3 separate regions of the Homo sapiens genome follow, and all the other regions are linked to region 3. The links come from fine-mapping of genetic effects on gene expression. A gene starts in region 3. Each other region holds a variant in brackets. All regions are shown on one strand. Distances are from middle to middle.

The links.
Region 1: its variant is fine-mapped to the expression of ACY3 in whole blood (TOPMed, PIP above 0.99).
Region 2: its variant is fine-mapped to the expression of ACY3 in spleen (GTEx, PIP 0.92).

The regions. Positions count from the first base shown.
Region 1 is chr11:67,670,502-67,678,843 of GRCh38, reverse strand. It overlaps ALDH3B2 (aldehyde dehydrogenase 3 family member B2), which reads left to right and starts at 4,221. Exons shown (of 10, transcript NM_001393402.2): 1 at 4,221-4,408. The variant G/C (reference allele first, on the strand shown) is at 4,762.
Region 2 is chr11:67,685,080-67,693,421 of GRCh38, reverse strand. No RefSeq gene overlaps it. Among named protein-coding and RNA genes, the nearest start is that of ALDH3B2, 15 kb to the right of the region's middle. The variant C/A (reference allele first, on the strand shown) is at 3,389.
Region 3 is chr11:67,646,898-67,655,239 of GRCh38, reverse strand. ACY3 (aminoacylase 3) reads left to right here and starts at 4,510. Exons shown (of 8, transcript NM_080658.2): 1 at 4,510-4,657; 2 at 7,651-7,724; 3 at 8,177-8,342. The coding sequence starts at 8,197. RefSeq lists enhancers at 4,229-4,288, 4,359-4,438, 6,169-6,588, 6,116-6,638, 7,049-7,128.

The sequences.
Region 1 (8,342 bases), 24 kb before region 3:
GCTGAGTAGTATTCAAACATATATATATATATACCATTAGTGTATATATATACCATAGTATGTATATATATACCATAGCGTGTATATATATCATAGTATGTATATATATGCCATAGCGTGTATATATATATATATAGACACCATAGTGTGTATATATACACCATAGTGTGTGTGTATATATATATCATAGTGTATATATATATATATGTACCATAGTATATATATACACAGTACTGTGTGTGTGTATATATATATCATAGTTTCTTTGGTCATGAAATCCTTGCCTAAGCCAATGTCTAGAAGGGTTTTTCCAATGTCATCTCCTAGAATTTGTATAGTTTCAGCTCTTGGGTTTAAGTCCTTAATCCATCCTGAGTTGATTTTTGTGTAAGGTGAGAGATGAGGATCCAGTTGCATTCTCCTACATGTGGCTAGCCAATTATCCCAGGACCATTTGTTGAAAAGGGTGTCCTTTCCCCACTTTATGTTTTTGTTTATTTGTTGAAGATCAGCTGCCTGTAAGTATTTGGGTTTATTTCTGGGTTCTCTATTCTGTTCCATTGGTCTGTGTGCCTAGTTTTACACCGATATGTCACTGTTTTGGTGACTATGGCCTTAGAGTATAGTTTGAAATCAGGTAGGTAGTATGATGCCTCCAGATTTGTTCTTTTGGCTTAGTCTTGCTTTTGCTGTGCGGGCTCTTTTTTGGTTCCATATGAAGTTTAGAATTGTTTTTTCTAACTCTGTGAAGAAAGATGGTGGTGTTTTGATGGAGATTGTGTTGAATTTGTAGATTGCTTTTGGCAGTATGGCCATCTTCACAATACTGATTCTACCCATCCATGAGCATGGGATGTGTTTCCATTTGTTTGTGTCATCTATGATTTCTTTTAGCAGTGTTTTGTAGTTTTCCTTTAGAGGTCTTTCGACTTCTTTTTTAGGTATATTCTAAAGTTGTTTTGTTTTGTTTTTTTGTTTGTTTTTTTGCTATCGTCAAAGGGATTGAATTCTTGATTTGATTCTCTGCTTGGTCGCTGTTGGTGGATAGAAGAGCTACTGATTTGTGTACATTAATTTTGTATCCAGAAACTTTGCTGAATTCTTTTATCAGTTTTAGGATCTTTCTGGAGGAGTCCTCAGGGTTTTCAAGGTAAACAATTATATCATCAGCAAACAGGGACAGTTTGACTTCCTCTTTATCGATTCAGATGCCCCTATTTCTTTTTCTCATCTGATTGCTCTGGCTAGGACTGCCAGTAATATGTTGAAGAGGAGTGGTGAGAGTGGGCATCCTTGTCTTGTTCCGGTTCTCTGCGGGAAGCCTTTCAACTTTTTCCCGTTCAGTATTATGTTGGCTGTGGTTTTGTCATAGATGGCTTTTATTACATTAAGATATGTCCCTTGTATACTGATTTTGCTGAGGGTTTTAATCATAAAAGGATGCTGGATTTTGTCAAATGCTTTTTCTGCATCTATTGAGATGATCATGTGATTTTCATTTTTAATTCTGGTTATGTGATGCATCACATTTATTGACCCTCCTACGTTAAACCACCCCTGCATCTCTGGTATGAAACCCACTTGATCATGGAGGATTATCTTTTTGATATGGTGTTGAATTCGGTTAGCTAGTATATTGTTAAGGATTTTAGCATCTATGTTCATCAAGGATATCAGTCTGTCATTTCCTTTTTTGGTTGTGTCCTTTCCCGGTTTTGGTATTAGGATGATGCTGGCTTCATAGAATGAATTAGGGAGGGCTCCTTCTTTCTCTATCTTGTGGAATAGTGTCAAAAGGATTGGTACCAATTCTTCTTTGACTGTCTGGTAAAATTCTGCTGTGAATCCTTCTGGTCCTGGACTTTTTTTTTGTTGGTAATTTTAAAATTACCACTTCCATCCCGCTGCTTGTTATTGGCCTGTTCAGGGTATCTAATTCTTCCTGATTTAAACTAGGGGGGTTGTATTTTTCCAGGAATGTAACCATTGCTTCTAGGTTTTCTAGTTTATGTGTGTAAAGGTGTTCACCATAGCCTTGAATGCTCTTTTATATTTCAGTGGTGTCAGTTGTAATATCTCCTGTTTCATTTCTCAGTGAGTTTATTAGGATTTTCTCTCTTCTTTTCTTGGTTAATCTTGCAAATGATCTATCAATTTTATTTATCTTTTCAAAGAACAAGTTTTTGTTTCATTTACCTTTTGTATATTTTTTCTGTTTCAATTTCATTTAGTTCTGCTCTAATCTTGGTTATTTCCTTTCTTCTGCTTGGTTTGGGTTTGGATTGTTCTCGTTCCTCTGTTCCTTGAGGTGTGATCTTAGATTGTCTGTGCTCTTTCAGACTTTTTGATGTAGGCATTTAGGGCTATGAACTTTCCTCTTAGCACAGCCTTAGCTGTATCCCAGAGGTTTTGATAGGTTGTGTCACTGTTGTCATTCAGTTTGAAGAATTTTTTAATTTCCATCTTGATTTTGTTTTTGACCCAATGCTCATTCAAGAGCAGGTTATTTAATTTCCAGTTATTTGCATGGTTTTGAAGGTTCTTTTTGGAGTTGATTTCCAGTTTTATTCCACCGTGGTCTAAGAACATGCCTGATATAATTTCATTTTTCTCTTGTTGCCCAGGCTGGAGTGCAATGGTGTGCTCTCAGCTCACTGCAACCTCTGCTTCCTAGGTTCCAGCAATTCTCCTGCCTCAGCCTCCCGAGTAGCTGGGATTACAGGCACATGCCACCACGCCTGGCTAATTTTTTGTATTTTTAGTAGAGACAGGGTTTCACCATGTTGGCCAGGCTGTTCTGGAACTCCTAACCTCAAGTGATCCACCAGCTTCGGCCTCCCAAAGTGCTGGGATTACAGGCATGAGCCACCGCACCCGACCTATTTTACATTTTAACAATTGCTACTGAGGTTGAGCATATTTTAATTTATTTACGTCTATTCAGGCTTCTTGTCAGTTCAGTTTAACAAAACAAAACAAAACAGCTTATTGAGATAGCATTCACATCCCATACAACTCACCCATTTACAGTGTACAATTCAGTGGTTTGGAGGCAGTGGGCCTCCCCAGTGGCCATAACCCATCTGCTGCTCTTAGATGGGCCTTAGCATTCTGCCCTGTATTCCCTTCCCCATCCCGAGGTCCCTTCCTGGTGTCACATTGGCATTTACATCTTTAGCTACCGAAGATTCCAGGGCCAGGGCTTGGTCTCAGGCTGTGGCCTCCGCTGGGCTGTCTCCAGTCACAACCAAGGGTTATCTCAGATGTCCCTCCTGCCCACAGGGCTGCACACTCTGCCAAGAGACTCTCTACAGCCCTCAGCAGGGCGTGTCCTTGGTCTCAGGCTTGGGGGAAGGTGGGGTGGGGACAGAGTCAGGCCATCCATGAAGGACAGTGGCAGGACCTGAGCTCATTCTGCTCCCTGGAACCTAGAAGGTGCTCAGCAAATACTTGTGGAAACATTAGCGGGCAACATTGAGGGGCACTGATTTTGTGCCAGGAGCTGTGATCTGCCTTTTCCATTCTCACGTCTCCCTCTGTGACCCTCTCAAGAACCATGGCAATTAGGTGTTATTGTTACTTCCGAAAGGCTCAGAGACGTTAAGTAACCTACCCACGGTTGCACAGTAAATAAATAAACCAATGAACAATGCGCCATCCTAGAGCTACAGGTGCCGTCGCCCATCAAGGGTCTCTCTGCAAAGATCTGAGCCCCTTCCTCTGCCCTGAGTATGCCAGCTGGGCACACTGAGAGTGGAAATAGAGCCACAGTTGCTCATCTTGACCTGTGAAGCCTGAAGAGTGAGGACAGGAGAGGAGGGAGATGAAGATTTAGCATAGAGACCCTAGGAGGGGCCATGGGGGGCATGGGACCACTGTGGCTGGGGCCTGGGAGGACTTCCTGGCGAAGGCAGCATTTGCCACCAGGATCCTGCTGATATTTTCATCCTGTGACCTTCCCCTGGGGTTCTTTTTTCCTGATCAGGTAACTCCCTGCTAGCCCATTCCAGGAAACACAGAGCAAAGCCTCAGACAGCCTTGACTTGTCTAACCTGTTCCCAAGCCGGCTGTGCAGTGTGGTCCCTGGGGGCAGGGCCCTGGAAGAACAGGGCAGACACCGAGCAGCTATAGGTCCTGGCAGTGAGACAAGGGTAGGCATGGGAATTGGGAGGTGCAGCCCTGCCCCACGCCTGTTGGGTAACACTGAGCATCACCCCATTGATTACCCCATTGCCAGGCGTGGGCACGGGAGTTGGTTTGGGAGCTGCCAGTCTCCTGGGAGGATCGCAGTCAGCAGAGCAGGGCTGAGGCCTGGGGGTAGGAGCAGAGCCTGCGCATCTGGAGGCAGCATGTCCAAGAAAGGGAGTGGAGGTGCAGCGAAGGACCCAGGGGCAGAGCCCACGCTGGGTTATGTGGGGCCACAGGGGTGAGGGGCGGGCAGAGGGAGCTCAGGGTAAAGGACACTGGTGGGAACCAGGGGCATGGAGGGAAGGGGATGTGTGCCCATGGCCCGTGGGTCAGGGGGCAAGCCCACCAAGGGGCCTATGGCTGCAGGGGCCATGGGTACGGGGCTTGCTCAGGAGAGGGAGGTGGGTGCTGGTGTCTTCTGAGCCTCACTTTGCCCTTTGGCAGGCTCCTGGGAAGCAGCCACAGAAATGAAGCCTGTTCCCCAGGAGCCCCAGGGATGGGGACAGACCCCGTCCTCCCTTTGAGGAGCTCCCAGGTTAGAGGAGAAGGCAGCTCTGTGGACAGACAAGGATT[G/C]GGTCGGGGGCACCAGGGCTGTGATCAGGAGGTGCCGGAGAATCGGGGATTGGAAGCAGAGAGATTCTTGGCAGTTGAAGCGAAAGTCGGATCTTTGGTTTCAGATGTTAAAAGCAACATGCATTGCTTGTTTCTGGTTCTAGAAATACTACATTCGCATTTAGAAAGTCTGGAAGCTGCAGGAAGATGTTGAGAAGACAGTGAAAGGCACGAGGCACACATTGGCACATGGTGTCACAAGGCTGGTGTGAGGAGAGGGGCTGGGGGGCCTCCCTCCTCGCACTGAGGCTGTGAGGAGGGCAAATCAAGTCGTCTCTGGGAGCCTCGGTTTCCCTGTCCTTCCAACTGGGTAATAATAATAGCTGTGAGGCTCAGATGAGATGTGCATGCCAGCTACCTGGCCCCAGATGCCAGCTCTGACTTCTTTCTGGGCCCTGCACCAGGCATGGCCACTGCCAAGGGAATGAGTCCCCTCTCCATATGACAGGTCCCATCAGGCCTCCACCTTCCTGTGTGTCTTATTTCTCAGCATCTGCCCCCACAGGGCTTTTGCACACGTTGGTCCCTCTGTCCAGATCACCTGCCCTCCAAGAGGCCCTCCCCTACGGCTTCCCCGCAGCAGTCAGAGCCAGGGGTGGGTCTCTGGCCACCTCTGGAAGAAGCCCTGGCCCACCGATCATGTTTGTAATGATATTGTTTCCGGTGTCATTGTTCCGTGTGTAGACTGTGAGCTCCATGGGGGCTGGCCAAGTCTGGGGTGGTCACCTATGGGACCCAGGTCCAGTCAGGAACTGCCTGGTGAGCAGCCAGAGGTCCCCAGTGTAAACCCAGAAAATCTGAGACGGGTCTCAGTTAATTTATAAAGTTTATTTTGCCTGTAATCCCAGCACTTTGGGAGGCCGAGGCGGGCGGATCACGATGTCAGGAGATCGAGACCATCCTGGCTAGCACGGTGAAACCCCGTCTCTACTAAAAACACAAAAAATAAGCTGGGTGTGGTGGCGGGCACCTGTAGTCCCAGCTACTCGGGAGGCTGAGGCAGGAGAATGACGTGAACCCGGGAGGCGGAGTTTGCAGTGAGCTGAGATCGCACCACTGCACTCCAGCCTGGGCAACAGAGTGAGACTCCGTCTCAAAAAAAAAAAAAAAGAAAAGAAAAGAAAAGAAAAGAAAGAAAGAAAGTTCATTTTGTGGCCAGGCGTGGTGACTCATGCCTGTAATCCCAGCACTTTAGGAGGCTGAGGCAGGTGCATCACTTGAGGACAGGAGTTTGAAACCAGCCTGGCCAACATGGTGAAATCCTGTCCCTACTAAAAATTATAAAAATTAGCTGGGCATGGGGGCGCATGCCTATAATACCAGCTACTCGGGAGGCTGAGGCAGGAGAATCATTTGAACCTGGGAGGCAGAGGTTGCAGTGAGCCGAGATCATGCCAGTTGCACTCCAGCCTGGGTGACAGAATGAGACTCCATCTTAAAAAAAAAAAAAAGTTAATTTTGCCAAGGTTGAGGACGTGCACCTGTGACACAGCCTGGGGATGTCCTGACAGCATGTGCCCAAGGTGGTCGGGACACAGCTTGGTTTACACACTTTAGGGAGACAGGAGACAGCAATCAATATATGTAAGAAGGCCAGGCACGGTGGCTCACGCCTGTAATCCTAGCACTTTGGGAGGCCAAGGCAGGGATCACCTGAGGTCGGGAGTTTGAGACCAGCCTGACCAACATGGTGAAACCCCGTCTCTACTACAAATATAAAATTAGCCGGGCATGGTGGCAGGCACCTATAATCCCAGCTATTCAGCTATTCGGGAGGCTGAGGCAGGAGAATCGCTTGAATCCGGGAGATGGAGATTGCAGTGAGCTGAGATCCCACCACTGCACTCTGGCCTGGGCAACAAGAGAGAAAGTCTGTCTCAAAAAAAAAAAAAAAATACATATATATATACACACACACACACACACACACACACACACACAAAATACATACATACATATATATATATATATATATATATATATATATATATATATATATATGAAGTACATCGGTTCCATCCAGAAAGGCAGGGACAGCTTGAAGCAGGGGGTGGGGGTGAGGGTTGGGGCAGCTTCCAGGTCACAGGTAGGTGAGAGACTGCATTCTTTTGAGTTTCTGATGAGCCTTTCCAAAGGAGGCAATCAGAATGTGCATCTATCTCGGTGGGCAGAGGGGTGGCTGTGAATAAAATGAGAGGCAGGGGCCCGCACGGTGGCTCATGCCTGTAATCCCAGCACTTTGGGAGGCCAAGGTGGGCGGATCACCTGCGGTCAGGAGTTCAAGACCAGCCTCAACATGGAGAAACCCCATCTCTACTAAAAATACAAAATTATTTGGGCGTGGTGGTGCATGCCTGTAATCCCAGCTACTCGGGAGGTTGAGGCAGAAGAATTACTTGAACCTGGGAGGCAGAGGTTGCGGTGAGCTGAGATCGCAGCATTGCACTCCAGCCTGGGCAACAAGAGCGAAACTCCGTTCCAAAAAAAAAAAAAAAGGGGGGGGAGGCAGGTTGGCCCTGATCAGTTTCCAGCTTGAATTTTCCTTTTAGCTTACTGATTTTGGGGGTCCAAGATATTTTCCTTTCACACCAGTCAGCCCTGCCCCAGCAAGCGCCCGGACCCCTGCCCTGCAGCAGGTGGGCGAGACAAGAAAGCACCTTGCATGAGAGGCAGGGCTTGGGTCCAGCTCCAGCCCCCATCTGTTTCCTCATCCGTCAGGCAGATGCTGCTGGCTCCGTGATTATTTCACCGAGCACCAGATGTGCACATGTGAGGACAGGCGACGACTGCCCAGAAAGGGCAGGGGTTCCTCTGCCCCACCTGCCTCACCTGGGAAAGCTGTGACCACGCTGAGGCCAGGTTCCTGGGATGAACATCAGGACACCTGTGTGCCATAGCTCATCCCAGACTCCTCCAATCCGGGTCTTGATTCAGGCCGGAGGCGGTCATCCCTCCAAAGGCACCAGGGAGCCATGGAAGAGGTTAGAGCTGAGCTGATGTGGCCAGGAGCTGCTTGAGCGCCGGGTGGAGGCTGCTGACGCTCGCATGCCAGGCAAAGCTTTGGGTCAGGGCCCTGGAACCTGGGACCTGGAAGCGCTCCAGGCCAATACCGCCCGCTACCAGAGAAGGGCCCAGGCCCCACCCAGGTTCTAGCCCAAGGGCTTGAGCAAAGACAGTAGATGAATATTTGCAGAGCCCTGTATGCTGCGTCCTCCTCCAGGCCCTCATGCAGGGGGGCCGCACACTGAGTGTGGGGGTCCTGTGCCAGGAATGTGATCACGCTGCCCAGGGGAGGGAGGCGGCATCTGCAGGTGTGGCCAGGAAGGTGCCCAGCATGGCTTCCTGTCTCCTCACATTCTTCAGCTGGGACCTGAGCCGGGCAGGGGCTGCTCTCCTCATCTTGTCATTCACAAGACACGGACTTCTGCCATTGGTTCAGCTGGCTCTGTCCATGGGCGAGCACTGTCCCTGCATCACATATGACAAGAATGCCTGGTGCGGTGCAAGTGCAGATGGGGCCACTGGCCTCCAGGACACTCACT
Region 2 (8,342 bases), 38 kb before region 3:
AATGCAAAACAAAAAAAGAAGGCAAGGTCAGTATTTATTTTTTTAAACTAATTTATTAATTTATTAATTTATTTATTTATTTTGAGATGGAGTCTCACTCTGTCACCCAGGCTGGAGTGCAGTGGTGCGATCTCGGCTAGCTCCGCCTCCCAGGTTCACGCCATTCTCCTGCCTCAGCCTCCTGAGTAGCTGGGACCACAGGCCCACGCCACCACACCCAGCTAATTTTTTGTATTTTTAGTAGAGACGGGGTTTCACGTGTTAGCCAGGACGGTCTGGATCTCCTGACCTCGTGATCTGCCCGCCTCGGCCTCCCAAAGTGCTGGGATTACAGGTGTGAGCCATCGCGCCCGGCCAGGTCAGTATTTTAGAAAAAAATGTCAAAGTAAGTGTCATAGGAGCTGTGGATGTGAAAATAAAGAGGAGAAGCAAAGAAGCTTTGGGCTTGGTAGGGAGGAAGGAAAAGACAGATGTTACAGATGCGGGAGACCAGGTCGTTTTAAAAGGGAATGTCCCAAGTTAGAAAAGGCAGAAAAAGCTCCCCCACTTGTGACCACTTTTAAAGAAGAATAGGGGGGTCAGGGGCTCTGACTTTTCTATTTTGAGTCCCACCAAGAGCCCTTGATAAATTTAGAGGTGGGACCCAGACATAAATTAATCACCTTTTTAGTCGACTCAGGAGAAGCCCATTCACCTGTCTGTTTTCCTTCAGCTCATTTAGTTTGTTCCCCAAAGGAATTAACAGTTTCTGGGGTTAAAGGGGAAGGATTCAAGGCAAAAGTTTTAGAAAATACAGAAGTTAAATATATAAATTGATTAGTTTATATACAATTTTTATTAATTCCTAAAGCAAAAGCCAATTTGTTAGAAAGAGATTTAACGTTAAAGTTAGGTATAGGTTTACAAGTTAGTCCAAAAGGTTTCCTAACCTCTTTAAATTTGTTAGCTATAGCAGATAAAAAATACATTCATCCAGCTGTCTGGTCAAGGGAAGGTAATCAGGGAAATTTACAGATTCCTCCAACACATGTTCAGTTAAAGACTCCAGGGGAAATAGTAAAAAGAAAGCAATACCCTATTCCTTTAGAAGGAAGAATAGGGTTAAAGCCTGTAATCAAAAGACTTATTAAAGATGGGCTATTGAACCTTCTATGTCTCCATACAATACTCCAATGTTACCAGTCAAAAAAATCAGATGAATCATACCAATTAGTGCAAAATCTTAGAGCTATCAATCAAATAGTTCAAACCACTCATCCTGTTGGGCCTAACCCCTACACTATTCTTAGTAAAATTCCATATAGTCATCAGTGGTTCACAGTAATAGACTTAAAAGATACATTTTAGGCATGTCCTTTGGCTAAAGACAGCCAAAATATATTTGCCTTTGAGTGGGAGGACCCCTATTTAGGCAAAAGCAACAATACAGGTGGACAGTTTTTACCCCAAGGATTTACAGATTTTCCCAATCTTTTTTGTCAAGTATTTAAAAAAAATTATTGTCCCAAAACAGTTATGCTTTCTTCAATATGTAGATAATATTCTTACATCTAAGGAAGAGATAGAAAAGGTAGCTGGACTTTCTACAAAAGTTCTTAACCACCTACAAGATAAAGGGTTATGGGTTTCAAAAGAAAAGCTTCAATATGTAGAACCTAAAGTTAAATATCTAGGCCATTTAATAAGTGCAGATAAAAGAAAAATAAGACCCCCCAAAATTGAGAAAATCATGTCTCTACCCTTGCCCCGAACCAAACAAGAACTTAAAAAATTCCTGGGATTAGTTGGGTACTGTCGTTTATGGATGGACTCATATGCATTAAAAAGTAAGCTCTTATATAAGAAATTAACTAAAGAGGAAACGCATCCCCTTATATGGACTTCTAAAGAAGTTAATCAAGTGGAGAAATTAAAAGAAAGACTCATCACTGCTCCCATCCTAGCCTTACCCTCTTCAGAAAATCATGTCATCTTTTTGTGAATGTAGACAATAGAGTAGGGTGGTCACTAAAGAACATGGAGGCGGTCAACAACCAGTAGCCTTTCTATCAAAAGCATTAGATCCAGTTGCCAGTAGATGGCCTCCGTGTATTCAGTCTCTAGCAGCCACAGCAATACTAGTTGAAGAAAGTAAGAAATTAACTTTTGAAGGGTACCTAACAGTGAGCACCCCTCACCAAGTTAAGGTGATCCTAAACCAAAAAGCTGGGAGATGGCTTACTGATTCTAGAATCTTAAAATATGAGGCTATTCTATTAAAAAAAAAGATGATTTAACAGATAATTCCTGAAATCCAGCAAGCTTCTTAACAGGAAACCTACTGCTCAAAAAAAGAACATTTGTGGTTAGATTTAATTGACTATCATACAAAAGTTAGGCCAGATTTAGTAGAGACCCCTTTTAAAACAGAGCGACATCTATTTATAGATGTCTCCTCCCGGGTAATTGAAGGGACATGACATAATGGATATGCTATAATTATAGGAAGATCTTAAAAGAAGTAAAATCAGGAAGATTATCAAATAGTTAGTCTGCCCAACCTTGCGAGTTATTCACAGTCACGCCCTAAAATATTTACAGAACCAGGTAAAAACCATCTATACTGACTCTAAATATGCCTTTGGGGTATCTCATACATTTGGGAAAATTGGGGCTAAGCAAGGACTAATTAACAGTAAAGGTAAAGAACTTCCTCGTGAAACACTAATTGTTCATGTTTTTAATAATCTTCAGTTACCTGAAGAAATAGCCATTGTCCATGTTCCAGGACACCAACCTAACTTTTCTTTTAAAAGTCGAGGAAACAATCTTGCAGACCAAATAGCAAAGCAGGCTGCTGTTTCTGAGACGTGCATTTTTCATTTAACCCCTTGTCTCCCTTCTCCTATTGTAGTTCCTATTTTCTCTCAAGACGAAAAAGTTAGAAAAGATTAGAGCTCAAAAAAAATTCAAAAGGAAGATGGATACTTCCAGATCAAAGAGAAATGTTATCCAAGCATCTTATAAGAGAAATTTTGTCCCAACTACATCAGGGAAGTAATTAGGATCCCCAAGCTATGTGTGATGCAGTTCTGTTTATGGATGCATTAAAGTTTATACTTTAGCCAAACAAGTTACAGTTATTTAATTTGCAAAAAAAAAAAAAAAAAAAAAAAACACAAATAAACAAGCCTTAAAAAAAGTTACCCCTTAGAGGAAAAAATCCAGGACGATGGCCATTTCAAAGTGTTCCAATTAACTATAGTAAAATGCCCCCAATTGGTGGCCTAAAATATTTATTAGTAATAGTAGATCATTTTACCCACTGGGTAAAAGCCATTGTTTTTTCAAGTGTAACTGCCAGTAATGCAGTCAAAGCCTTAATTAAACATATTGTACCTAGGTTTAG[C/A]TTAATAAAAAATATTAATTCACACAATGAAACCCATTTTACTGCACGTGTTATTATCTAGTACTGCCCTAAGTACTAGACATAAAGTGGGAATATCACATTCCTTGGCATCCATCCTCTTCGGGAGGAGTAAAAAGGATAAATCAAACTCTTAAAAATCATGTAACTAAATCAGTCCTAATGACTTGCTTGCCATGAACTAAACGTCTTCCTATTGCTTTATTAAAAATTAAAACTGCCCCTAGGAAAGATGTTGGATTGTCCCCTTATAAAATGTATAGATTACCCTACTTACATTCTTCTGCTGATGTCCCTATGTTTTTATTGTTATTTGTGGGAGGAGGGATTTGAACCCCGTGGCTATTTGATCTCTAGCTTTGAATTTATTTGGTATACCTTGTGGAATGCTAGTTCCATCTAAATAAACATGGGGGTCAAAGGACCCAAGACTGGCTTCTCTTGTTTTACGATGTCGTGTTTTTTGTTGTTGTTGTTGTTTTTCTGGTTGATGAATTGCCAGGGTAAAAGGGATAGCCAGTTCAACTAGAGTACAAGTAAGGTCCAATTATTTGGCAGAGTGTCCAGCAAAGGCCCTCCACAATACCACTATACCTCTGCTTGGGGATGAGTAAGGGCTGACTGATGGGTCAGCTCTTGGAAGTGCCTGACCTTACCGCATCCTGTTAAGTTTCTAAGAAACACTAAATTTTCCCCTTGTCTTGAGAGCCACGAAGCAAAAGTGGTGTCAGAAGATGGAGGCTGGATGGCCCTTGGGGGCTTTTTCAACACTCCAACACTCCAACACTCTAGAACACTGTGTGCCCATAAGCAATCACTCCCCATTCCCCACACCTCCATCCCCTGGCAACTGCCAATCTGCTTTCTACCTCCGGGGATTTGCCCATGCTGGCCATTTCATACAAATAGGACCGTACAGTATGTGCCTGGCTTCTTTCACTTAGCACAGTGTTCTCCAGGTTAAGCCAGGTTGCAGCATGTGTCCATACTTCATCCTTTTTTCAAACATAGACTTCGTTTTTCAGAGCAGTTTTGGGTTCACAGTCAAACTCCATTTGTTTTGTTTTGTTTTGAGATGGAGTCTCGCTCTGTCACCCAGACTGGAGTGCAGTGGTGTGATCTCAGCTCCCTGCAACCTCTGCCTCCCAGGTTCAAGTGATTCTCCTGCCTCAGCCTCCCAAGTAGCTGGAACTATAGGCATGTGCCACCACACCCGGCTAATTTTTGTATTTTTAGTAGAGACAGGGTTTCACCATGTTGGTCAGGCTGGTCTCAAACTCCTGACCTCAGGTGATCCACCTGCCTTGGCCTCTCAAAGTGCTGGGATTACAGGTGTGAGCCACCGTGCTCCACCTCCATTTGTTTTTATGGCTAATATTGCGTTGTCTGGATGGGCCACATTTTGTTTATCTGTGATGGACCCTTGGATTGTTTTCACATTTGGGCCATTGTGAATGGCACTGCTGTAAACATTTGTGTACAAGTATTTGTTTGAATGCTTATTTTCAATTCTTTTGGGTATATACCTGGGAACACAATTGCTAGGTCACATGGCAATTCAATGTTTAACTTTTGAGGAGCCACCGCGCTGTTTTCCATAGCAGGCACACGATTCCCCATCTCCACCAGCAGCGTCTGAGGATTCCAATTGCTCCACATCCTTGCCAACACTTAGAAAAAATCAGAGCCCTCACAAATACTGTATTAGTCAGTTCAGGCTGCTGTACTAAAATACTACAGACTAGGTGGCTTAAACAGAAATTTATTTTTCATAGTCTGAAGGCTGGGAAGTCCAAGATCAAGGTGCTGACTGATTTGGTTCCTGGTGAGGGCCCTCCTCCTGGCTTTCCAAAGGCTGCCTTCTTGCTGTCTCCTTATATGGTACAGAGAGAGAGAGAGAGAGTGAGTGAGAGAGAGAGAGAGAGACAGAGAGATATCTGGTGTCTCTTCCTTTTCTTTCTTTTTTTTTTTTTTTTTTTTCTGAGACAGAGTCTCACTCTGTTGCCCAGGCTGGAGTGCAGGGGCCCGATCTCGGCTCACAGCAACCTCTACCTCCTGGGTTCAAGGGATTCTCCTGCCTCAGCCTCCCAAGTAGCTAGGATTACAGGCACCCACCACCATGCCTGGCTAATTTTTGTATTTTTAGTAGAGATAGGGTTTCACTATGTTGGCCAAGCTGGTCTCAAACACCCGACCTCAGGTGATCTGCCCGCCTTGGCCTCCCAAAGTGCTGGGATTACAGGTGTGAGCCACCGCACCTGGTCTCTTCCTTTTCTTATAAGGAAGAAAACTCCATCCGGGACCCCACCTTCAGGACCTCATCTCAACCTGATTACCTCCCTAAGGTCCAACCTCTTAATACCATCATATTGGGGGTTAGGGTTGCAACATGGGAATTTAAAGGAGATAAAAACATTCAGTCTATAGCACTACCTAACAGCATGTCCTCAAAATATAGAAATAAAACATGGACAGAATTAGGAGGAAAATTTGCCCAATCCACGCTTCCTTCAGAAACAAATAGGTCAAACTGGCAAAATAGTAATATGATAAAAGATTTGAACAACAGAATTAGCAAAATTGAGCTAATGGAAATACATACATACATATATATATATATATATATATATATATATATATATATATATATATGTGGCAGAAGGAGGCATGTGCTTTTGAGCACACATGAAACAGTCATAAAATTGATCACATACCATGCACCAAAGCAAGTCTTAAGAAATTTCAGGCCAGGCACAGTGGCTTATGCCTATAATCCCTGCACATTGAGAGGCTGAGTCACGTGGATCACCTGAGATCAGGAGTTTGAGACCAGCCTGGCCAACATGGTGAAACCCCATCTCTACTAAAAATACAAAACTTAGCCAGACGTGGTGGCACGTGCCTGTAGTTCTAGCTACTCGGGAGGCTGAGGCAGGAGAATCACTTGAACCCGGGAGGCAGAGGTTGAAGTGACCTGAGATCATGCCACTGCACTCCAGCCTGGGCGAGAGAGTGAGACTCTGTCTCAAAAAAGATAAAAAATAAAAAAAGGAAATTTCAAGAATCTGGCTATATATATGAGATTCTTTGACTATAAGGTAATCAAGTTAAAATGGATAATAAAACAATATCAGCAGCCATACATTTGAAAGGCAAAAAATATGCTGCTACATAATGTATAGATTAACTAAGAAATTATAAAGGAAATTAGCAAATGTTAATATTAAACAATAATGAAAATATCAAAAACTTGTGGAGTGGAGTGATATGATGCCTAGAGGAAAATATATCTCTCTAAATATTTATATAAGAAAATCAGTTCGAGACTAGCCTGACCAGTATTAGAAAACAGGAAAGATAATAAATGGCCTCCTGAAAGAATCATTAAATATTATGGGCCAGCTACCTGGGCGCATGGGGTAACATACCCCCATCTATATGCTCAACCACATCATAAGGTTGCAGGCAGTCCTAGAAATTACAAAGAAATTATAACCAATGAAACGTCAAGGGCACTAGATTTACTAGCAATACAAGCAACACAAATGAGAAATGCTATATATCAAAATAGATTGGCTTTAGGTTACCTCTTAGTCTCAGAAGGAGGAGTATGTGGAAAATTTAGTTTAACCAACCTTTGCCTAGAAATCGATAATAATGGCCGAGCTGTCATGGAAATCACAGCTGAAATGCGCAAGCTGGCCCATGTTCAAGTTCAGACATGGTCCGGGTGGTCCCCGGATTCCTTGTTTGGAGGATGGTTCTCAACTTTTGGAAAATTCAAAACCCTCATTGGTGGGTTCTTACTTATTCTTGGCATCTGCCTCATCCTCTCTTGCCTTTTACCGCTGCTTATTAAGAGTATTCAGTCAACTATAGAGGCAATAGTAACCTGACTCACTACCGTGCAGTTGATGGCATTAACCAAATATCAGCCACTGCCAGTAGAAGAAGCAGCTCAGCTCCACGAAGAGGTGGCAAATAGTGGTGCTTTCTATTAACACCTTTGTTATAAAAAGCACCAAAGATGGGAAAATGAAACAGGAATTAAAAGAAATTAAAGAACGTGTAAGCAAAAACTCAGTTACATATAAGAAAACACAGTTCCCCCTGAGAAAGAGAAAGAGCTGGAGTCCTTTAAAAATTAACTGCCTGTTTTTCTGTGGCTAGGGAGCCTCATCTCTTCCCCTTTCCCAGGCATTGTGAAGACCGTTTCTCTAGCTGTGCAGCTGCAAGGTCACTAGACAGATAAACTCAAGTTGTAAAACATGTTTTTCCTTGAAAAGTAAGAAATGATATAATGCATGTCTCAATTAATTAAATAACTGTCTTTTTTTCTCACTTCTGTAATATGCTTCCCCCTGCACAGATCTACCTTAAAAGGTAACTTAACTCTTTGTTCAGGGCTCAGTCCTTTGGATATTAATCTGACTGGGCCAGTACACCTAAATAATAAATATCCTTCTCAACCCCGTTGGTCTCTCTGATTCCTTATCAATCCCGCTACAGTATGGTGAAATCACGCCTCTACTAAAAATACAAAAATTAGCTGGGCATGGTGGAACACATCTGTAATCCCAGCTACTTGGGAGGCTGAGGCAGGAGAATCACTTGAACCTGGGAGGCGGAGGTTGCAGTGAGCCAAGATTGTGCCACTGCATTCCAGCCTGGGTGATAGAGTGAAACTCCGTCTCAAAAAAAAAAAAATTAGCCAGGCATGGTGCTGTGTGCCTGTAATCCCAGCTACTTGGGAGGCTGAGACCAGAGAATTGCCTGAATCTGGGAGGTGGAGGTTGCAGTGAGCTGAGATCATGCCACTGCACTCCCGCCTGGGTGACAAAGCAAGACTGTCTCAAAAAAAAAAAAAAAAAAAAAAGAGAGAGAGAAAAAGAAAAAGAAAAATTACAGGCTCATGCCTGTAATTCCAGCACTTCAG
Region 3 (8,342 bases):
GCTAACACAGTGAAACCCCATCTCTACTAAAAAAAAAAAAAAAATACAAAAAATTAGCCGGGCGTGGTGGCAGGCGCCTGTAGTCCCAGCTACTCGGGAGGCTGAGGAAGGAGAATGGCGTGAACCCGGGAGGCAGAGCTTGCAGTGAGCCGAGATCACGCCACTGCACTCCAGCCTGGGCGACAGAGCGAGACTCCGTCTCAAAAAAAAAAAAAAAAAAGTAAGAACCTTTAAGTTACATTTCAGAAGGCACACCATTCCCATCAAACCAACAATTTTAGACTAGTTCCATTCACCAAAAGATTACTGTCATGTGAACTTGAAAAGCACTTGGTCTTATTTGCTTAGTTTATGAGTACTCATTTCTTTATAAGCCAATTCGGTACCATAGCCAAATATAACCGGACGTGTACATACTACCAGATACAAATAACGATCCTATAGCTTTAACTTTTAAAGGTTTAGCCATGGGTCAGGTAAAATTCACTACTTAAAAGACAGTTCCAACTCTGTCTCCGTCCAACTAACAATTTTAGCTAAAATTTATCTCTCCCATACAGCAGAAGCCCTTTCCTAAATTTTAGGAAGAACACGGTAGAAAGGAGACAGGCAAAAATTTGGCTCTAGTGTCGGAAAACCCGTGAGTCTCTCCCACAGCAATTGTTACCCGATCTAGGGGTTCCCAGATCATAGAGGAGTCCCCAAGTCCCATCACTTCTGGTCACTATTAGCAAACTGTAGCATCTGGTGGGCTGATTGACGGGGAAGTTTCTTTCCCTACCCACTGGGGACAGTTAGGACACTCTAGTACCCAATGGCCCTCTTGTTTACAATATGCACACTGTTGTGTTCTCAAGGGCGGGAGGCCCTTTGGCCGGGCAGTGGGGTCCCTAGGGATCTTACTTATGGCTGATCATCTCCAGTGAACTGTTTTGTTTTTTTGTTTTTTGTTTTTTTCAAGAAAGAGTTTTGCTCTTGTCGCACAGGCTAGAGTGCAATGGCGCGATATCAGCTTACAACCTTCGCTTCCTGGGTTGAAGCGATTCTCCTGCTTCAGCCTCCCGAGTAGTTGGGATTACAAGTGCCCACCACCATGCCTGGCTAATTTTTTATATTTTTAGTAGAGACAGGGTTAGCCATGTTGGCCACGCTGGTCTTGAACTCCTGACCTCAGGTGATCCTCCCGCCTCAGCCTCCCAAAGTGCTGGGATTACGGACATGAGCCACCACGCCTGGCCGCAGTGAACTGTTTCTTGTGTACTGGCTGGTTGTAGCCAAGAGACTCGATGGCTTCTTGTCTTGTGTTGCCTTTTTGTTTTTTGTTTTTTGTTTTTTTTTTGCCCTTCCTGGACCTGGCCACAGTTGCTCAATACCTTAAGGGTAATCTCAACCAATGGAGATGTCAGCATCCCCAGTGTCCCTTCTGCTTTTTGTAGTTTATCCGCATGGCTTCTGCCACTGGAGTCCTGCTACAATTACTGTTTTCCCATATTACCCACCCAGCAGCTTAGAGGCGGGATTGGTGGTGACACAGATCCCACAACTCTTGGCCCACACTCAACTAGTTTTAAAAATATATTGGTGGGGAGGGGCGGGCATGGTGGCTCATGCCTATAATCACCACGCTTTGGGAGGCCGAGGTGGGTGGATCACTTGAGCTTAGGAGTTCGAGACCAACCTAGGTAAGATGGTGAAACCCTGTCTCTATAATATTAGGTTGGTTCAAAAGTAACCGCTGTTTTTGCCATTGAAAGTAATGGCAAAAACTGCAATTACTTTTGTACCAATCTAATTTTTTAAAAATTAATTAATTAAAAAAAATTGGAAGGCATAGATTTCACTCGGCAAGGCAGGAAATCTTGTAACTGCTCTATACTGTGGCTCTGCCGACCGCCCGGCACTGCTCCAGCAGATGCAAACTGCCCGAGATTTTGATGAATTCACTGAAGGAAATAAAGACATTGTGTTTAAAAACACAGCAGAAAGGTTGGGTGTGGTGGCTTATGCCTGTAATCTCAGCACTTTAGGAGGCTGAAGGGGGTGGATCACTTGAGCTCAGGAGTTTGAGACCAGACTGGACAACATAGCAAGACCCCATCTCAAAAAAAAAATTAGCTGGGTGCGTGCCTGTAGTTTCAGCTACTTGGGAGGCTGAGATGGGAGGACTGCTTGAACCTGGAAGTTGGAGGTTGCAGTGAGCCACAGTCGAGCCACTGCACTCCAGCCTGGGTGACAGAGCCGGACCTTGTCTCAAAATTAAAAAAAAAAAAAACCCACTGCAGAAGACCTTCAGAATTGCTTGCCTCTAGAAACCATGCTTTCCTCAGAACATCTAACCCTTCAAAAACTACAGCAGCAGCCAGAACCCACCATTCACGCTGACGCATTCCTTTGTGATAAAGACTTCATTGATTCATTATGTGACAAAGGGAAAATGAGCAGAAACTACTGGGTGGTTCACACCAAACAGAACCTTTAGACCGATTGCTCGTTCCTTCTCCCTCATGGAATTGAAGTTCATTTATCTTCATGCACTCCCTGATCAATCAGGAAAGGCTGTGGCTGACGTCAGCTCCAGGCTCAGCACAGTCTTTATGGGGTGATCTTATAGCTTAGCAGTGCAACCCTGTGGAGTAGAACTGAACGGAGACTTTTGCCAGTTGCAGGAAATGGTCATTAAAAAATACCAGTTTATTCACAGAATAAAGGTGCTTCATGCAGACATCTGTCCCCAGGGTTTCTTCTGCAAAATGCTGATGCTGCTATCATGAATAATGTCTTCAAATATTCTCTTAATGAGGCAGAACAAGCCGGAGCTGGGAATACATTTGTCATAATGTAAGGAAGCAGATCATCATCAGTGACAGTGCCAAGTCTTGAAGATTCTCTCCTGGGTCTTCAGACTAATACACATTTATCTCCCTGGGTTGAAGAAGTACTGTGGGACTATGATGTATACCCACAAAAGGATATTGACAAAGAAGCTCTTTATTTATTTATTTATTTATTTATTTATTTATTTATTTATTTATTTTCTTTTGAGACAAGGTCTCACTGTGTTGTCTAGCCTGGAATGCAGCCATACGATAACGGCTCACTGTACTCACGGTACGATTACCTCCAACTCCCCGTGCTCAAGTGATTCTCCCGCCTCAGCCTCCTGAGTAGCTGGGGCCACAGCTGTGTGTGCCACCACCTGGCTAATTTTTTTTTTTTTTTTTTTTTGAGACAGAGTTTCGCTCTTGTCGCCCAGGCTGTAGTGCAATGGCATGATCTCGGCTCACTGCAACCTCTGCCTCATGCCTCAGCCTCCCAAGTAGCTGGGATTACAGGCACCCACCACCATGCCTGGATAAATTTTGTATTTTTAGTACAGACGGGGTTTTGCCATGTTGCCCAGGCTGGTCTTACACTCCTGACATCAGGTGATCCACTCGCCTCAGCCTCCCAAAGTGCTGGGATTATAGGTGTGAGCCACCGCGCCCACCCTAATTTTTTTTTTTTTTTTGGTAGAGACAGGGTCTCCCTATGTTGCCCAGGCTGGTCTTGAACACCTAGGCTCAAGCAATCTGCCCCCCTTGGCCTCCCAAAGTGTTGGGGTTACAGGTGTGAGCCACTGCACCCAGCTGACAAAGAAGCTCTTGAACAAATTCATTTAATGAGATTCTCTAGCACTAAAATAGTCCTACCTCATTGTAATGTTTTGTAGAGTATCTTATAAAACAATGAAAAAAAACCAGTATTTTAATACATATTTTTCTGTATATTTCCTTCTAGCCTTTGTACATATGATCACATATTTGTAAAAAGTTGTATGTATATATATACAACTTTACCCGCTTTGTGTGATGATATGACAAAAACATTTATCTGAAAAAAGTATTTTTTTCATCAAATGGCAGAGCTCCTGTTTCTGGTAACCCGGGGTATGGCAAGTAGGGGCTCTGGGAGATGGAGCAGCTCAGCCTCCTGTGAAAAATTCTGTTTCTCTAAAAAAGAACAAATTCTCATGCTGGGCGCGGTGGCTCACGCCTGTAATCTCAGCACTTTGGGAGGCCGAGGCGGGCGGATCACGAGGTCAAGAGATCGAGACCATCCTGGCTAACACGGTGAAACCCCGTCTCTACTAAAAATGCAAAAAATTAGCCGGGCGTGGTGGCGGGCGCCTGTGGTCCCAGCTACTCAGGAAGCTGAGGCAGGAGAATGGCGTGAACCCGGGAGGTGGAGCTTGCAGTGAGCCGAGATCGCGCCACTGCACCCCAGCTTGGGTGACAGAGCCAGACTCTGTCTCAAAAAAAAAAAAACGAATTCCCAAAACTAGTCCCACTGTTGTCTACCCAGATCCGGGATCCGGGTTGCCCTTGGCCTGGCCAGAGATGCCTCTCAATCCCCCACGGCACGTAGAGCCAGACAGAAACCGAAAGCAGAGGTGCCCTGCGCTGAAGTCTAGAGATCCCACTGCTAGGTCCAAAGAATTTACCCTTTCAGTCAACCCACGGGGCAAAGTCCACTTTCTTCCCTGAAGGAGCAGCACAGAACAAAAGCTCCAGGCAGCTGCTTCCGCTGTTTCGGGGGTAGGGCGGAGTGACAGCCCCACGGGCCACGCAGCAAGCAGAAGATCCCCGGGAGTCACCCTCAACCCTCTGGGGCCACGTGGGTGAGTTCGCCCGGGGAAGGTGCCGCGGCCCACTGCTTTACCTTAGTGAGCCTCAAGAAGTTAGGATCAGAATCCCAGTCGGCCCCATCTGGGTCGCCAGAGTTTTGTTACCCACACAACGGGTGGGCTCAGTTGCTTGGCGGGTGTTAACTAAAGAGGATTTAATAGGGGATTTTATTTCTTGCAACAAGTAAGGAGAACACCTAGACAGCTCCCAAAGCAGTGTCTCCCCGAGCTGAGGGCTGGGGCAGGTTTTATAAGCATAGGGTAATGAGGCGTGATCTGATTGCATCTTGCAATGAGGTGATGCTGGGAGGCATGATCTAATTGGATGCTGACACAGGGGGGAACCACAGCTCTGACCCCTCTCTGGGTCTCAGTTTCCCCAACTGCAGTGAGGAAATTGGCCCCCGTGATGATGCCCATGACATCACCATCCTCTGCCCTCACTCATGCTGGGGTCTCCATGTGCCCATTTTCAAGCTTGTGCCCGCCCTTTGTTCCTCACTCCCCACAGCTGCCCTTGGCCAGGACTTTCACAGGGTGGAGCCAAGGCCCAGAGAGGGCACTGAATCTCTCCAGGTCACACAGCCTGTCAGGGAGGTGGGGCCAGAGCCAGGTCACACGTGTGCACACAACACACACACACGCACACATGCTCACGCACATGCACGCACACACGCTCTCAAGCACATGCACACATGCACACACATGCACACACACTCTCATGCACACACGCACACATGTACACACACATGCATGCACACATGCACACAATACTCTCATGCACATGCACACACGTACACACGCACACATGCATGCTGTCACACATGCGCACACACGCACACATGCTCTCATGCACACACGCACACATGTACACATACATGCACACATGCACACAATACTCATGCACATGCACACACATGTACACACGCACGCACACACGCATGCTGTCACGTACACATGTGAGTGCACACACGCACACACATGCTCTCATGCACACGCACACATGTACAGATGCACACATGCATGCACACACATGCACACACGCGCACACACTGCCAGGACTGGGGGCTGCTGTTTCTGAGGGTTCCTGGACCCCGTTCTGTTCCATAAACACTCACTGAAATGCAGAAGCTGGACCCCAGCCAAGGGAAGTGAAACTTTCCAGCACCCCTACTGCTGTTCTCCCTAAACTTGGGGGCCCAGCACCTTGTGGCAGGAAGCACCCTGGCCCCCAGCAGCCCCCAAAATAGCTAGGTCTGCCACGGAGGCCCTTCCTTCCTGAGAGGTACCACACCGAGTCAGCAGGATCCCAGCCTCTGTGGGGGTTGGGGGGGCCTTCCAACAAAGACCATGGCCTGGGACTCATAAAGCAGCATGGGGGTCCCTGAGACCCCTACCCCAAGCAAGGAAGGAACAGACCCAGGCCGACAGGCTCCTCTGCTGACTCCCTCTCCCACCACCTGCCAAGGACTCAGTCAAGTCACCCAACCCCTAGAGCTTCAGTCCACACCTGCAAAATGGAGCCGGTGACAGCTGCCCCCAGGGCTGGGCCGGATACAGGAGTTGATGGCATGGCATGGCCCCCTAATGGCAGTCTCTGCCCTCCCTTTGCTGAGGCTCCAGGTGCCAGGAGGAGTGGCCCCTGGAGGGGGCTCATAGGGAGCCCCGGCCCACTGGGGGCTCAGCCTCACACTCCATCCACCCCTCTTGACACCCTGTCAAGATCCCAGCTGCCCTGATGGGAGCCAGGATGACAAATCCCCTGTCCCCACAATCGCCATGCTCTGAGCTCACGAAGCCTTGGGTGTGGAGGGCAGGAGAGCCCAGGCCACACAGAGCTGAGTGTGATCTGGGGCAGCTTCCGAGAGGGTGTAACTTAGAGGGTCCTGGCCACCCAGAGCCCCCCAGGCTGGTGGGCCTGGCATCTGGAGCAGGGCTGGACTGGCCCGGGGAGACCCAGTGTGGTGGTAAAGAAGGCCCAGGATCGATGCCTGGGGGAGGCTCCAGCTCAGGGTCCCAGCACCTGGCATCCAGCAGGCCCTGGCGGAGCAGCTTGCCTCACTCCCCAGTGACTTCGGAACTGGCCTCAGCTCCTCCCAGCAGACAGCTGAGCCTGGTGGGAGGTAGAGGCCCCAGGGCTGAGTGCAGGGGACCTCACCTTCATCCTTCCCCACTTTGCTCTTGAGAGGCAGCAGGAGGGGATGGAGCCACATTGGACGCACTGAGTGCCACCTACAGCCCGCCTCTAGGGCTCTGTGCGCCACCTGCAGCCCGCCTCTAGGGCTCTGTGTGCCGCTGAACAGTCTGCCCCTAGGGTTCTGTGGGCCACCTGCAGCCTGCCTCTAGGGCTTGTGTGCCTGCAGACAATTTTCTGAGCCTCAGTTTTCACATCTATAAAATGAGCCTGAGGGTTGTTCCCAAAACAGGGCAAACCGAGTCATCTGAGTTACACTGTCCTTGAAAATGACTGAAATCCCGGATCAAACATTTTAAAATTTTGCTTAAAGCAACAAAGAGCTGTAAAACTGGGGCTCCACATGGCACCTTTGGGTAAGGGCGACTCAGGAGTGACCACAGCCCTCTCCGGGCTGCAAGGACAGAGGCATGTTGCCGAGGTGGTGAAGGAGGGGCAGCTTGTCATCTTGGTGGCCATCAAGGTGACACCTCTATAGTAACTTTCAATAGCCTGCTCTGGTGGTGACCAAAACCAAGTCACCACCCCACTGCGGGTGTACCTCTTAGTAGTGTTAAGGAAGGTGGCCCCTCTGGGGCCCAGCAGAAGGACGAAGGGCAGGGGCAGGAACTTGCCCGCAGGACCTGGACTCGTTGGGCCGTGGCAGCACAAGTAGCAGCGTGGGGCGGGCGGGGCAGGAGCAGTGGAGCAGACCCCAGCACTCCGACCTTTGGCTGCATGAACCTCAGCCCGTCCCACCCACCCCCTGCTGTCTGCCAGCTTGCCACAAAACTTCCCATCTGTGGATCTCCAGGCCCATGAATACCAGCCTGTCTGCGAGTTAGACGCCAGTCCTGGTGGCCCGGGAAGCCCAGATCCGCATCAGCGGTAAGTACCCCCTGACCTGAGACCCCTGCACCAGCTGGGAGGAGCAAGCAGGAGGGGCAGGAAGGCGAGGCTGTTGCCTAGAACCCAGACACTCCACAGCTAACTCTGGTGACACTTTCCACTCCCCACGCTGTGCCTCAGTTTCCCTGTCTATAAAAAGGAGCGCAGTCCTCTTCCTATAGGGAGTGTGCCTTGGTGAACCCATCTTCCTGAACAGTTGGGCCCCTCTTCTCAATTTAGGAAAAAGAAACTTCTTTTCTCCAAAGGAGCAGGAAAATTGTCTCCTCAGAGAAAGGGCCACTGGGGGTGCAGGTGGGACACAGCTGAGACACTCCCAGCTGTCCACACCTCTTGACAGGTGGCTGCCCTGTGGAGCCTCCCACCGCCATCCTTGCCCTGAGCCCAGATCCCTTGCATCGGGGCCAGGGTCTCCTAAGTATGCCCACCCCCAGGTTCTGCACCCCACACCAGCATGTGCTCACTGCCTGTGCCCCGGGAGCCCCTGCGTCGCGTGGCTGTGACTGGGGGCACGCATGGCAACGAGATGTCGGGCGTCTACCTGGCCCGGCACTGGCTGCATGCCCCCGCAGAGCTGCAGAGAGCCAGCTTCTCCGCTGT